Linked DNA regions of Homo sapiens: region 2 is linked to region 1. The links come from fine-mapping of genetic effects on plasma protein levels. Region 1 holds a variant in brackets. A gene starts in the other region. All regions are shown on their reverse strands. Region 1 overlaps DNM3 (dynamin 3). Region 2 holds the start of ZNRF4 (zinc and ring finger 4).

What was found. A credible set is the group of variants that fine-mapping cannot tell apart. PIP is the chance, under the fine-mapping model, that this variant and not a neighbour inherited with it causes the effect. Protein levels are from antibody-based Olink assays in UK Biobank. Linkage for the fine-mapping came from a reference panel and not from the study's own genotypes, which makes the PIPs less certain.
Region 2: it holds the start of ZNRF4, and the variant in region 1 is the best candidate, but not a certain one, in a credible set for the plasma level of the ZNRF4 protein (UK Biobank, PIP 0.70).

Annotation. Positions count from the first base shown.
Region 1 is chr1:171,958,644-171,961,556 of GRCh38, reverse strand. All of the region lies in intron 2 of DNM3 (dynamin 3), which reads right to left. Among named protein-coding and RNA genes, the nearest start is that of DNM3-IT1, 96 kb to the right of the region's middle. The variant T/C (reference allele first, on the strand shown) is at 1,246.
Region 2 is chr19:5,454,272-5,457,184 of GRCh38, reverse strand. It overlaps ZNRF4 (zinc and ring finger 4), which reads right to left and starts at 1,768. Exons shown (of 1, transcript NM_181710.4): 1 at 329-1,768. The coding sequence starts at 1,693. The coding sequence ends at 404.

The DNA.
Region 1 (2,913 bases):
TTAACTTTTTGAGATACCACCAAACTGTTTCATGCAATGGCTGTACCAATTTCCATTCCTACCAATAATGCATAAGAGTTCCAATTTCTCCACATCCTCATCAGCACTTATTATTTTCTATTGTACTTTAGTTCTGAGTACAGTATGGGATATTAAATGTTCACAGATGACAATGGCCATACCTTGTCAAAAACACATGGATTAAAAGTATGTTTCTAGCTGACCTCATGGCTGCTCTTGTCACTGTCACCATAAAGTCTTTCATGTCCTTCCGCCCTCTACCTCTTCCTTTCTACCCAGGCTGGAGTGCACTGCTGGTCATGAGCTCATTGTCTCACCAACATCCTCTTCTCTTCTTCCTTGTACCAACATCCCTCCATCGCATCCATCTTATAAAATCCCAACTCTAGGAGCCACTTTTCCTGCTGTAAACCTCAGGAATCTGAGCGCTGTCTGGAAACATCTCAGAACAGTGTAGTGCATCTTTAATACAAATCAATGGTTTCCAAACTCAGCTGAGACCTGGATGCCAACTGTCAATTATAGGTAGTCTCTGGTCAGCCTTCTGGTCTTGAACAACTATTCCAAACTTCCACTACTACTTCCAACTCAACTGCCTCCCTTACCCTCATCCTCAGCAGAAGAACTTATCTCTAAGAAAAATGAAGTCATCAAGGATGCACTTCCTTACTTCCTGCTCTCTTACCTACAATCTAACTACCACCTCACCCCATCCTGCTTTTTTTCTTCCAGTCACAGAGTACACTGTTTTCATTTTAAAACCGATGAACTCTGCCTGGGCCCCTGAGCTCATGGCTCTTGGGACTGCCAGGATTGTGCTCCACCAAGCATTCCCTATTTCTCCCTTATCTTTATCCTTTACTGCTCTCCTAATGTATCTGCTCAGGTTTCTCTTCCTCTTCTTATGAAATCATCAGTTCCACCCTCATAATAACCCATTAATTAACCCATTAATCCACTAACCCACGAAGGTATTAATCCATTCATGATGGCAGAGCCTTCAAGATCCAATCACCTCTTAAAGTCCGCACCTTTCAACACTGCCACTTTCTCTTGTTCTGCAAATGTACTAAGTCTCATCCATCCTATAAAAAGTGGAGCCCTCTCTTTACCTAATCACACACTAGTTATCATTCATTATATTTGTTTCCTGGGGCTGCTATAACAAAGTATGCCAAATGGGGTAACTTTAAACAACATAAATTTTATTATTTCACAGTCCTA[T/C]AGCCTAGAAGCCTAAGTTGAAGTGTTGGCAGGGCCATCTAAAGGCTCTAGGGAAGCATCTGTTCCATGTCATTCTTAGCCTCAGGTGGTTGTCAGCAATGGCTTGGCTTATGGATGCACTACTCCAGTCTCTGCCTCTTATCACATTGTGTTCTCTCAGTGTGTCTGTGTCCAAATTTTTCTCATTTTATAAGTTCAGCAGTCATTGGATTTGAACCCATCCTAATCCAGTCTTCATTCCTGATTTTAACCCAATTACATTTGCAAAGATCCTATTTTTGAATAGAGTCCTATACTGAGGTTCCAGGAGAAAGAACTTGAATTTTGGGAGGGCACTATTCACCCCAGAACACTCATATTTCTACAAAGATTCCTCTACCCCCTCCACAGTACCCGCTGTCTGGCTCCCCAGACCCCTCTCCCCACTTCAGTTGGCTTCTGTCCCCACAGCTCTGAAACAGAGTTCGCTAAGGTCAGCACAAACCTCCTAACTCCAGACCTCACCGTAGTAAATGGCCTGGTGTATCTAACACTGATAATCACCCCTCCCTTCATAACACTTTACCTCCTTGGCTTCCTCCCTGATGCCACTCACTTTTCCTCCTATCTTTTGACCCCTTCCTTCTCTTTATGGACTTCTCTGTCTCCTGACACTTCAATGCTGGTGCTTCCCAGGATTACTTTCTTTTCACTTTTGTTGTTGTTGTTTTTAATTCTTCCGGGGCAATTTTATCCATTTTTTGGTTTGAAAGACAACTGTATATTTATGACTTACAAATCTGCATATGTAGCCTAGATTTTCCCCCACAAGCTGCAGGCTTGCATATCCATCTGTTTAGATGTGCTTCAAGAACCTTAGCTCATCATTGTTCCTGAATAAACCTCTAGTTGTCTCTATTTATTTGATATCATCACTGATCCCGTAACCCAAGCTAGAAACCTGAGGATATCTTGCCCTTATTTCTACTTATGTATCTGTTTTTCCCTTATTATCTTTTTAATATATCAAATAATACAAAATACTACATTTGACATATATATATAATGAAAAATAATAATAAAACCAGCACCCATGAACCCACCACTAATATAAGAATCAAAACTGTCCAATACCATTCCATTCACCCATATACTTCCCCCTTCTGTATTCATTCTCTCACCTTCTCCTCCATGAGAATTAACCATGATTTTTAATTTTATTTTATTATCTCCTTTTCCATATTGGTTTATTACATACCTGTGCATCTCTAACCAACACATTTTTCAGTTTTGTTTTTAAGCTTTATACAAATGAAGTCATTCATTTGGGACTTGCTTTATTCACTCAAGATTATGCTCCTAGACTTATTACTGTTGATGCACATGGCTGCAGTTCAATAGTTTTACTGCTACATAATATTCAACCATGAGAATTAATTCAAAACCATAATTTTTTAGAAATATGATTTGCAACATTAGCAGAAACTATGTGGTACTTAGAAACGAATGTAACAAAAGATATATAAGATAGGTATATCTATCTGACATTACTTTCTAAAAATTTATTGATCTCCCCCTCCCCAAATCACTATCACCAAGGCCAAGTGAGGGTAGTTCTATCACCTCTCATCTGGACAGCTTACTCCACAGTCACACCCCAAATCTTGCCATGTTCCATCTATCCTGCCC
Region 2 (2,913 bases), not on the chromosome of region 1:
GGAGAACTCTATGGCACCTTTGCAACTTTTCTGGAAATCTAAACCAGTTCCAAAATAAAACGTTTATTTTAAAAGAAAAAATGTGAATGAAGAATAAGGCCATCCAGGATGAGTGACCCGTGTGCCCGGGACTGGAACCAAAGCACAGACGACCCGTCTCAAAGCCACTCCGGCACCACGGTCACAGCCGCCCCAAAAAGGCCCCCCAGCCCTCACCACCCCTCGCTCTCCCGCCCGCAGAAACGGGGATTGGCCTTAGGCTTGATGGGGATGGGTGTCCCCCAACCCCAGTCAGAGGCGGGTGGCCCAACAGCAGCGAGGCTGAGAATCCGCTTTCAAACCCACTTTATTCTTTTCAGACCAGAAACATTCCTCATTGCACCCCCCTCCCTGCCCTAGATCTTTACTGACCAGGGGCCTCAGGAGGGGCTGAGGAGACAGTGGTATACTCTGCCTCCAGGGACGTGGTGCTGCAGTGGCAGTGGGGACTGGCGCGGCCCAGCAGCTCCAGCCTCCGGGAGCGTAGCTGGACTTGAATGGCCCAGATGGGGGGCCGGTGGCCCGGTAGGGAGGGGTCCTCGTCCCTGAAGCTGTAGGTGGTGGAGTCAAAGCTGTCTTCTGTGGCGGCCACCGACTGTTTGCACACGGGGCAGGAGCGCCGGGGGGCTTGGGAGAACCAGGGGTCAATGCATTTGCAGTGGTAGGTGTGGGAGCAGGGCAGGATCTTGAGTTGGTCGCCCTCCTCATACTCATCCAGGCAGATGGCACACAGGTCGTTGTGCCACGTGAAGGTGCGGACCTGGGCCTTCTGGCAGGTAGACGTCTTCACCGGCCGTCTGTGGCTGCAGCAGGCCTGGGCCCAGAGCCACAGGTGGTTCAGGACAAAGAAGGCTGATACGACCAGGGCCAGGGTACAGCCCAGCACCCAGGACACGGTCAGCACGGGGTGACAGCCCAGGTCGTGGCACGGTGGGTCGTCGGGCAGGAGCAGCGCGTGGGCCGACTTGTTGCAGCCCAGGATGACCCGCAGGTCCTGCGAGGCGGCCTCGCTCACGAACACTGAGGGGATGGCGATCTGGCCCCTCAAGTCCTCGTAGACGTGGGTCATGCTCACGAGGTCGTCGGAGTGGACGTTGTGCACGATGGCCGCCTCGAAGCCGGCGCGCTGGGCGTTCAGCACCTTGAGGTCGAAGGTGCAGTCGTAGCGGCGGATCAGCACGATGGCGCCCAGAGAGCGGTTGCCCAGTCGCGGGGCCTCGATGGGATGGCACGCGTTGGCTGGCTTGACCTCCATCAGGTAGCCCCGTATGCCCTCGGGGGCCAGGGGGACGCCGAACAGCGCCGGCAGATCCGCAAAGTCCACCGAGCTCGAGTTGTCTTCCAGCACGGCCCGTACCACTGCCTGCGCGGGCACCTGGAGCAGCGACAAGACCAGCAAGGCTTTGACTGCCACGAGGGCTCGGCCCGGCCGTGGCCACCCCATGGTCACCCGCTTCGCTGTCTGTGTGCTGCTAGGTCCCACTGGAGGCGGCAGGCATGAGGCCTTTGGGCATCTCCGGGGTCTCCCAGGGGGCCTGTGGCCAGGACGCGAGGGCAGTTGAGTTGGAATGACCGCGTGGCTCAGAGGCAGTGACGCGGCCACTGGGACCCTGCTGGCTCTAGGCATTAAGTGCTCCGGACGGCAGAGCGGCATGCGTCGTGTCTTTGAAGGCCGGTCTCAGGAGGTGCTGGCGCAGGTGGCCTTTCTGGCAGATGACATGGAGACCAGGAGTCACCAGGGTTCTAGATGCCCCCAGCTTCTGTGACATCGCCCTGCTACATTCTGTCCCAGGAGCTGCCAGCTGCCTGGGCCTGTGGCCAATGGATCATTCCTAGGTCTGTGATTTGCCGGTACCCGGGCAAGCTTTGAGATAACTTCTTGAAGGCTCAGGGTATCTTTGGACCCAAGGAGGCCCAGGGATGCTTCAAAAGGGCTGCCGGCCCCCAGCAGTGCAGATTCAGCCCTCACTGTGCGAAGACGCTACCAGCATCAGCTTCTGGAGGTTCCTAGCAACACACTGTAGAAGGTTCAATGTTACCCTTGTCTGAGACTCCAAGAGTGACCCAGACTTGTTCAAGCCACGCCCCCCTACAATGAGATCAGTGCTTAAAACCCAAATTCCTGACCCCCTGTCACCATCCCTCACTCTGCTCCAGCCACACAGATCTCCTTGCTGTTCCTCCAACACACCAGGCAGGATCCTGCCCCAGGGCCTTTGCATGGGCTGGGCCTCCTGCCTGGAAAGCCCTTTCTCTCCGTAGCTGGCTCTTTTATCCGGACTCAGGTCTGAGTCCATATATCCTCAGAGCCCTCCTGGACTTGATTTGGAGGGAGAGTCAAGTGCCAGGGTCAGGGTGGGGCTGGTGGGGGTCAGTGGTCCCAAGTCCGCACCGCCAGGTTGGCCTCCAGGCTTGCACCAGCTTCATTCTCTCTCCCTATAGCATTGCCTCTCCAGCTGGGTCTCCAACTGTGCCCCCTGCCTGAGCTTCAGCCCTGGGCATCAGCCTCACCTCCTCCCCAGTCCCCATCCCCCAAATTTCACACCCTCAATCTGTCTGCAGCCCACTCAAGTCGGATTTCTGTCTCTGCCATTCATAAGCTGTATGACATCAGCTAAATTCCTTAGCCTCTCTGGGCCTCAGCTTCCAGACCTGTAACATAGTCTTTCCCATGCTCTAAACTCTCCCATGGCTCCCCATTGCCCTCCAGATAAAGCCCACACTCTTCTCTGTGGCCTACATGCACCCCTGTGGTTGGGCGCCTGCCAATCTCTGAAGCCTGGATGATTTGCAATGTCCCAGAGGCATCTTGCTTTGTTCACCTCTAGAATTTTGCAAATGCTGTTCCCTCTGCCTGGAACAGAATTCTTGCTC